Regions from separate parts of the Homo sapiens genome. Here region 1 is linked to region 2. Evidence: fine-mapped expression QTL. A gene starts in region 2. The other region holds a variant in brackets. All regions are shown on one strand. Distances are between the middles of the regions. Region 1 has its middle 60 kb from the start of LINC00674. Region 2 holds the start of KPNA2 (karyopherin subunit alpha 2).

The links. PIP is the estimated chance that this variant, and not a neighbour inherited with it, causes the effect. A credible set is the group of variants that fine-mapping cannot tell apart.
Region 1: its variant is the best candidate, but not a certain one, in a credible set for the expression of KPNA2 in left ventricle (GTEx, PIP 0.74).

Annotation. Positions count from the first base shown.
Region 1 is chr17:68,159,648-68,164,038 of GRCh38, forward strand. No RefSeq gene overlaps it. Among named protein-coding and RNA genes, the nearest start is that of LINC00674, 60 kb to the left of the region's middle. The variant C/T (reference allele first, on the strand shown) is at 2,412.
Region 2 is chr17:68,033,446-68,037,836 of GRCh38, forward strand. KPNA2 (karyopherin subunit alpha 2) reads left to right here and starts at 2,290. Exons shown (of 11, transcript NM_002266.4): 1 at 2,290-2,395; 2 at 3,665-3,762; 3 at 3,913-4,050. The coding sequence starts at 3,688. RefSeq lists a silencer at 2,023-2,072 and enhancers at 2,036-2,583, 2,603-2,822.

The DNA.
Region 1 (4,391 bases), 130 kb after region 2:
AATCAGGCATTGAAATGGTCCTTGAAAAAGGAAAGGTGATTGAGTCGAGGCATACAATGAAATATCATTCTGTGGTTCTGGGAAAGTAAAATTGGTTGGCATGTTAGCATGGAATAGGGTTTCTACAAGGCCGCTTAAAGAATGTTCCCACTCTGAGAACTGAGGGGAGTTCCAAATAAGCAGTTTGTGAGTGATGATGAACATGATGATGATGATAAAGTCTCCTTATGTAAGAGCTGGCAGAAGAGTTGGTCACACCTACATGTTTTAAATTCACATAAAAGTAAATATATGGCCGGGTGTGGTGGCTCACACCTGTAGTCTCAGCACTTTGGAGGGGCTGAGGCAGGCGGATCACTTGAGGTCAGGAGTTGGAGACCAGCCTGGCCAACATGGTGAAACTCCATCTCTACTAAAATACAAAAATTAGCCAGGCGTGGTGGTGTGTGCCTATAATCCAAGCTACTCAGGAGGCTGAGGCAGAAGAATTGCTGGAACCCGGGAGGCGGAGGTTGCAGTGAGCCAAGATTGCGCCACTGCACTCCAGCCTGGGCGAGAGAGACTCCATCTCAAAAAAAAAAAGGTAAATATAGCTAGGCATGGTGGCTTGTACCTAGCTACTTAAGAGGCTGAGGCAGGAGGATTGCTTGAGGTCAGGACTTAGAGACCAGCCTGGGCAACACAGTGATACTGTGTCTCTAAAATATTTTAAAAAGTAAATATAAGCAGAACTCTTCTGGTGAAAATTTCATTCATTCATTCATTTTTTAGAGATAGGGTTTCACTCTGTTGCCCAGGCTGGAGTGCAGTGATGCAATCATAGCTCACTGCAGCCTCAAACTCCTGGGCCCAAGCAATCCTCCCATCTCAACCTCCCAAATAGCTGGGACTACAGGTGCATGCCACTACAACTGGCTGATTTAAATTCTTTTTCTCTCTCTCACTCTCTCTCTGTGTCTCTGTCTCCGTCTGTCTGTCTGTCTTTTTCTTTCGTCTGACTCCGTTGTCCAGGCTGGAGTGCAGTGGCACAATCTCACCTCACTGAAACCTCCACCTCCTGAGCTCAAGCAATTCTCCTGCCTCAGCTTCCCGAGTAGCTGGGATTGCAGGCACCGTCCACCACACCTGGCTAATTTTTGTACTTTTAGTAGAGATGGGATTTCACCATGTTGGCCAGACTGGTCTCAAACTCCTGATCTCACCCACCTTGGCCTCCCAAAGTGCTGGGATTACAGGCATGAGCCACTGTACCTGGCCTGAAAAAAATAATACTTTTGATAAATCTGAAAATCTGGGGCTATTTCTGTCACTGAGAGAAGGTGTGTCTTTCCCCTTAAACTAGGTTCATGTTGCTGAGGAGGCAGAGGGCTGAGTTCTTCCATCCATCGCCTTCAAGTGTCAGGCGGCTTCCGGTTGGACAAGATGGCTACCCCAGTGGGCTTGTTTCCTCTCTGGTCTCTTTTTCTGTCTAAGACTCACTCCATACCAGCCTGAGCTTGGGACCATTGTTTTGCTCCTCTCATCCTCCTACCCCCAGAGCTGACAGATTTAGCAAATAAAATTTACAAGATCCTGTTAAATTAGAATTTCGGACAAACAACAAACTACCCCACACTGTCTCAGGAGGGTCCCTCAGAGATAAGTGTCACTGAGCCTCGGGAAGGAGGAAGCTCCATCCCTGCCCATCAAGCCCCCTCTTGGGGTCCCCTCAAGGAAGACAGTGGTTCCAGAAGGTGTGTTCCCACCCCCTTTCACAGCCTACCTCTCTCCCATCCCTCTCTGACCCCAGGTTCCAGCTGGCCTGGGGATTTCTGGGAGGATCCGAAGAACAAGGCCATCTGCAGTAGGAGCCTCCTGTTCCTCGCCACCTACGCTTCAGCCCTGCCCAACTAACAGCTCTCCATGTTCTAAAGAAGGCAGGAGTGCTGGACCACCCCAGCCTTCTGGAACCCCAGTTCTGTGACATTATCCATCTCCTGGAAATATGCTGGTTTTAACCATGCAAATTAGTTAAGCATCAGGCAGAAATAGCAGCTGGGCCTGGAAGCACAGGTGACGTCTGTGAGGAAAATGGCTGGGTGGGACAGGGTGGAGAGCACGGGCTGTTCCCTTCCTTTCTGGGAACAGCACCACCTTTGGGGTAACTCCTTCTCTCATGGGGTTTTAGGCGGGGGCTGCCAGTGCCAGTGCCCGGTCCCCTGTCACCCCCCATAGTCATAGGAACGCTTCTGCGCCAGTCACTACATTTATAAGGGGAAGCTGGTGGAGCTGCTCAGCTTCCAACAGGAAGCCCATGTGTGCAGGGCCAGAGGACACAGCCCATCTGAGGTGCTAAGCTTCTGTGAAGAGGGAGTGGAGTCTGGACCGGATTCCAGTCCCACGGTCCACCCTTTCTGGGACCCAAACACACC[C/T]TTCCCCTTCCTTCAATTCTGAGAAGCAGTAAATGTCCCTACTTGCGAACAAGTTTGAGTTGGGTTTCTGTCACTTGCAGCCAAAAGAAACCTGCCAGCTACTGTCAGCATCGGTCAACCATCTGTGAAACTGTGAGCTGACAACCTGTCCCCTCCCTGTGAAGGCCACAACATCCCAACACCATTAGTCACCAAGGAAGTCTGGGAGAAATTTCTACCAGAAAGGGGCAAGGGAGGAAACATTTTGTTACTGCTGGCCCACTCTACCCTCTGAAACAGGGCGGCAGGATCTGGCAGAAAGAAAGTTTACAAGGGGCTTCTAAGCAGGCAGTGCTGCCCCATGCCCCCCGGGCTTCTCCTCCCAGCAGGGCAGCAGCATATGGCACCCTGGGATAGGAGGTCTGCAGGGGCGGGGGCGGGGAGGCTGAACATCCTGGGGGCACCACTTTATGAGGAACCATTTATGGCCAGAACTCTACAGGGGCTTCAGGGACCTGAATGAACTCATCTCTGTAGAGTGAGAGTCCTGGGCAGGAGGAGAGGTTTCCATAGCCCAGGACCACATGCTGGAAATTTGGTCTCTGCAGCTTAAAATCTGAGAGAAGATGGTGTCTGCAGCATTCAAAGGGGGACCAGAGGGACCCTCCACCCCTGGCCCCCCCAGCTATTACAAACATGAGCCCTGGGAAGATTCCTATCAAAAACCCAAGCTGGGGCCCATGAGTCAAGTCTGGACGTGCAGTTTGGGGCAAGAGGACAGATGGACGCCACAGGCCATCTGTCTAAATATTTCCAAATTATAAATTAAACTAACAGGGTGTTAAATAAAGTATGTTCTAACCTCATCCCCTGACAAATATTCCTTTAAAATGATAAAATTTAAAAATGTGTATGAAGCTATGATTTGTACATGACAGAAAGTTAGCAAAATATCAAAGATCATAAAATTTTTTTGCTTTTTTTTTTTTTTTTTTTTGGAGACGGAGTCTCACTCTGTTGCCCAGGCTGGAGTGCAGTGACGCGATCTCGGTTCACTACAGCCCCTGCCTCCCGGGTTCAAGCAATTCTTAATATTGAGATGCGTAATAAAATAAAGATATGTGTAATTTATAAATTACTGAAACTATTCCATGAAATTTATTTTTATTCCTTTCAGCAAAATCAATTATTATTGTCAAGATTTAAAAATACATGTAAGAAGGCTGGGCGCGGTGGCTCATGCCTATAATCCCAGTATTTTGGGAGGCCACGGCAGGCGGATCACGAGGTCAGGTGATCCAGACCATCCTGGCTAACAAGGTGAAACCCCGTCTCTACTAAAAATACAAAAATTAGCTGGGCGTGGTGGCGGGTGCCTGTAGTCCCAACTACTCCGGAGGCTGAGGCAGGAGAATGACGTGAACCTGAGAGGCGGAGCTTGCAGTGAGCCAAGATGGCGCCACTGCACTCCAGCCTGGGCAACAGAGTGAGACTCCATCTCAAAAAAAAAAAAAAAAAATACATGTAAGGATTAAAACAGTCATATTCACAGTACAAGTATCTTAACATTTTCATCAAAATAAGTTTATGTAAAAAATTTAATTTTGTCAGAAATGTTTTCCCAAACAATATTCTTTTCAAATATTGAAAAGTATCTATTGCTGGGCCCAGTAGCTCACGCCTATAATCCCAGCACTTTGGGAGGCTGAGGCAGGCAGATCATGAGGTCAGGAGTTTGAGACCAGCCTGGCCAATATGGTGAAACCCCCATCTCTACTAAAAATACAAAAAATATTAGCCAGGTGTGGTGGCGCACCTGTAGTCCCAGCTACTTGGGAGGCTGAGGCAGAAGAATTGCTTGAACCCGGGAGGCAGAGGCTTCAGTGAGCCGAGGTCGTGCCACTGCACTCCAGCCTGAGCGACAGAGCGAGACTCCATCTCAAAAAAAAAAAGAAAGAAAAGTACCTATTAAACCAAAAGGCAACATACAAATTAGAATTA
Region 2 (4,391 bases):
TCAAAGGCAATTTTGGGCATTATACTTCTGTTTCAGGTTGTTTTTAGGTGCAAGTACAGAATAGTGGTTCAGAACACAGATCCTGGAACCAGACTGCTTATGGCTGAATCCTGTCTTTGCCATTTACTGGCTGTGTGACCCTGGAACAAGTTACATAAACACTTGTGATTCAGTGCTCTCTTTTGTGAAATAGAGCAAATAACAGTACTACCTCACAGTTGTGAAGATCAAGTGTATTAATATATGGTAAACACTCAGAACACTTCTGGGCACATAGTAGTCAGTATTTTCAAGCAAAAGAAACTCAACTTGGCTTGGTATGGTGGTCAGGCCTATAATTCCAGCACTTTGGGAGGCTGAGGTGGGTGGATTGCTTGAGCTCAGGACTTCGAGACCAGCTTGGGCAAAATAGTGAAACCCTGTCTTTACAAAAAATGCAAAAATTAGCTGGACGTGGTGGTGTGTACCTATAGTCCCAGCTATTTGGGAGGCTGAGGTGGGAGGATGGCTTCAGCCCAGGAGGCAGAGGTCGCAGTGAGCTGAGATCGTGCCACTCCACTCCAGCCTGGGCGACAGAGCTAGACCCTGTCTCAAAGAAAAGAAAAAAAAGAAAAAAAAAAAGAGAAGAAACTCAACTTGACAATACAAAAGAAATGTGTATCGGATCTCCTACCTGCAAACCTTCAGAGATAGAGCAGGTCAGACCTCTCAAGGTTTCCCTACAGTTTTCTTATTCAGATTTCTAGGACTCACATCCCTTAGTTCAGAAGAACAGAGGCTGCTTTCCTACCTCCAACCAGTAAACAAAAGGCAGAGGCTGTCCAACTGGATGAATTTAGGTCATGTGCCTGCCCCTGAACCATTCTCAGTAGCTGAGAGAATGCCACACAGTGATTGGTTTAGGGGTGAATTCCTTCCACATTCTTGCATTTAGGGGGATGGGATTATGCTGATTAAGAGTAGGTCCAACCCTTTATGAACTCTGGCTTTACGATGAATGAGGCTGGCATTAATGCCTGCAAAAATGGACAAACTTGCTGTTTGAATTTATTTATAGTAAGAAATAAACCATGAAAACTTTTCTAAAATGTAATCTTTTAGAACACAAAAAAATTGCAGAAACAAAAATGGCCCAGAATCCTGATGCTCTGTTGACCATCTTTGTTTTGTTTGTTCGTTTGAGCATATGGCAAAAAATGCAAAATTCAGAAATGTGTAATGAGCATAGAATGTTACTATAACAATTGAAAAAACTTGAACACACACTACATACTAAACAACAGCATGAAATTTCAGTTTTTCTGAATTTGATGACTGCAGTGTGGTTATATAAGAGAATGTCTTTTCTTAGGAGAGACACCGTGAAACAGAGGAAAAAGGACATGATTCTGAAACTTTCTCTTAAAGTAACATATTAAAATCACACATATGTACACGCGTGCATATGTATACATATATATGTATAGAGAAAGCAATAGCAAATGTGGCAAAATGTTAAGATTTGGCAAATCTGGATAAAGATTTGCAATTCTGCTGCATTTGAAATTATTTAAAAATAAAAAACTTGAGTTTTTGGAGAAACAGGCATAAGAAACCTTTTGTTTCCATATTTGCGGCTTCTATACAGTCTTTTATGATGCAATTAAAAAAAAACTAAACTAAAAAATATAACACAAATCTTCCCTCCCATAGTAGCCAGAAACCCCCGCCGAGTACTTTGGGTGTCATAATAGGAAAAAAATGCAAAGCAATATGTTTTTCTATAAAGATTACTTATTTACTAATTAGAATTTTTTTATTTTCATGAAGATCAACAACAAAGTTTTTAAAATAATGACTTAGAGAATCATTTTGTGGTATTTGTTTAAGGCTGTCGCCCAGGAAAACGCCCAAGGACCATGCACGCTTCAACCCTATGGAAACACGAACGGCCCAGGGAACCGCCCCTTCGCGCTGCTTGACGGGATCTGGAGTCCTCCCGCTCCGCCCCGCCAGGCGCTCAGGGACCGCCCGGCCGCTCCCTCACCGCCCGGCCGCTCCCTCACCGCCCGGCCGCTCCCTCACCGCCCGGCCGCTCCCTCACCGCCCGGCCGCTCCCTCATCTCGCGATGCCATCCTCTTTTTTTTTTTTTCTTTCCCCCCTCCCACTCGCCCCCAAGCCCTATGACTCCCTCCCCTCCCAACGTGTTTTTCAAATCCACCAATGGGCACACAGCTTAGGCTCGAACCAGCCAATCGGAATGCGGAGTCACCGGGAAATTTAAATCGCGCCGGCCGGCTGCACGAGCCACACGGTCTTTGAGCTGAGTCGAGGTGGACCCTTTGAACGCAGTCGCCCTACAGCCGCTGATTCCCCCCGCATCGCCTCCCGTGGAAGCCCAGGCCCGCTTCGCAGGTACAGACTCAGGCGGCGGCCCGGCCCGAGCGCTAACGGCTTGCCCGTGGGCGGCGTTCGCCTTTTGGGTTGGGGGAGGGAGGCCCCGGGTCCACGCCGAGCCTGGCTCTGCCTCCCGCGTTGACTAGGCCTCGGGGGCGACGTTCATTGACCAGGCGGCTGAGTTTCGCGGGGTCTGCGGGTTTAGGGCGCCGACGCTCTGCAAACGGCAGCGGAGGCCTTAACGCGTCGCGGCCGGGAGAATCGGAGCGAGCCAGGCTTGAGGGCGAATGTCCCGGGAGGACTTGTGGCGGCCCTGGTTTCGCCTCCTCCTTTCTCGTTGCATCTTCCCCGGCGTGGGGGCAGGGGCTGGGGGTGGCAGTTGGGAGCACCGTCTCTGACACCTAGGCCCCGGGGGTGGCTCTGCCACCAAGTCGTAGGCGAGCGTAATGAAAGCAAAGATAGCAAATTGTAAGGAGGGCTTTGACTTTTGTCATCTTCTGAATGACGCACAGCTGATGTCATCCTAATTAAGCGCATTCACTCCTAGTCTCTGGAAATGCAAATCAAATATGCGAGATGCGGCACTGCATTTTTAATGTTGACCATAATGTAATGATGAAGCAAATTTTTATTTAATTTTCGAGTCTGCACCTATTTTGGCCAAGTAAAGACAGTAAAATAGGGAGAGCCTCCTGAGGATCTGAATTTATTGCCCTGGCACATAATTTTTAGCTGTAAGTTGACTTGGTTCCCCTACTTTGTCTTGAATTAACTATTAGGGACTCTGGAGTATCGAACTAGGCTGTCAGAAACGGTGGATACATGTGGCTAGTCCAAATTGAAATACGCTGTAAGCTTAAAGTACACAAAAGATTTCAAAGATGGAGTATGGAAAAAGAATGTAGAAGATGTCAGTTATTTTATATATTGATAACACGTTGAAATACTATTTGGATATGTTGGGTTAAGTAAAATACATTATTAAAATTAGTTTCACTTGTTTCTTTTCTCCTTTTTAAAAATATGGCTACTAGGAAGTTTCAATTTATATAGCTTGCATTCTATTTCTGATGGAGAGCCCTCTCCAGGAAGTCTCAGCCCTTTAGAGGGAAGGGGGACACTTCCCCTTTGGGTAAAGCTATTTCATAGTGCCGAAAACATGATGATCCCCCCTCTAGTATACAGGTGTGGATTCAGTAGATGCTTGATAATTCAGTTCTTATTTGGTACTATTATTGACAAAGGAAAATGATAAAGGAAATATTTTTCTCTTCCCCCATCTTTTAGCTTTCTCCCTTTGTCTCATAACCATGTCCACCAACGAGAATGCTAATACACCAGCTGCCCGTCTTCACAGATTCAAGAACAAGGGAAAAGACAGTACAGTGAGTACCTTCTGTTGCTTTCCTGTGGTGGTATTTAAATGGGAAGACATTTGGAAAGGGGTGAAAACTGAGGTATTTAAAAAAAAAATGCCCTCACTTAGCAACAAAAACTGGTGTGATAGGTGAAACGGCATGTTATCTTTTCTCAAGGAAATGAGGCGTCGCAGAATAGAGGTCAATGTGGAGCTGAGGAAAGCTAAGAAGGATGACCAGATGCTGAAGAGGAGAAATGTAAGCTCATTTCCTGATGATGCTACTTCTCCGCTGCAGGAAAACCGCAACAACCAGGTAAAAAATGTATTTTAGTTTATGAGTTACGTGAAATCCAGAAAATCAGTAGGGACTTTTCTTAGAAATTCAAGTAAACTTAACATTTCTAGTCTTAACGGTTTTAACTATCTGTGAACATCTTTTTCTCTGTTTGCAATTAGTAATTGTCTTCTTTCCTGCCTTCTGTAATCCACTGAAGCTGATTTAGGATCTTCCTTTAGCTCTGACCTTCCTTCAGACTTCCCTGCATTTCTAGCTACTAGCTGGGTACCTTGGCCTGACCAGTGTGTCCAGAGCCAGCCAGTTTCTGGTTTATTTCTTCTTTTTTTTTTTTTTCCCCCGAGATGGAGTCTTGCTCT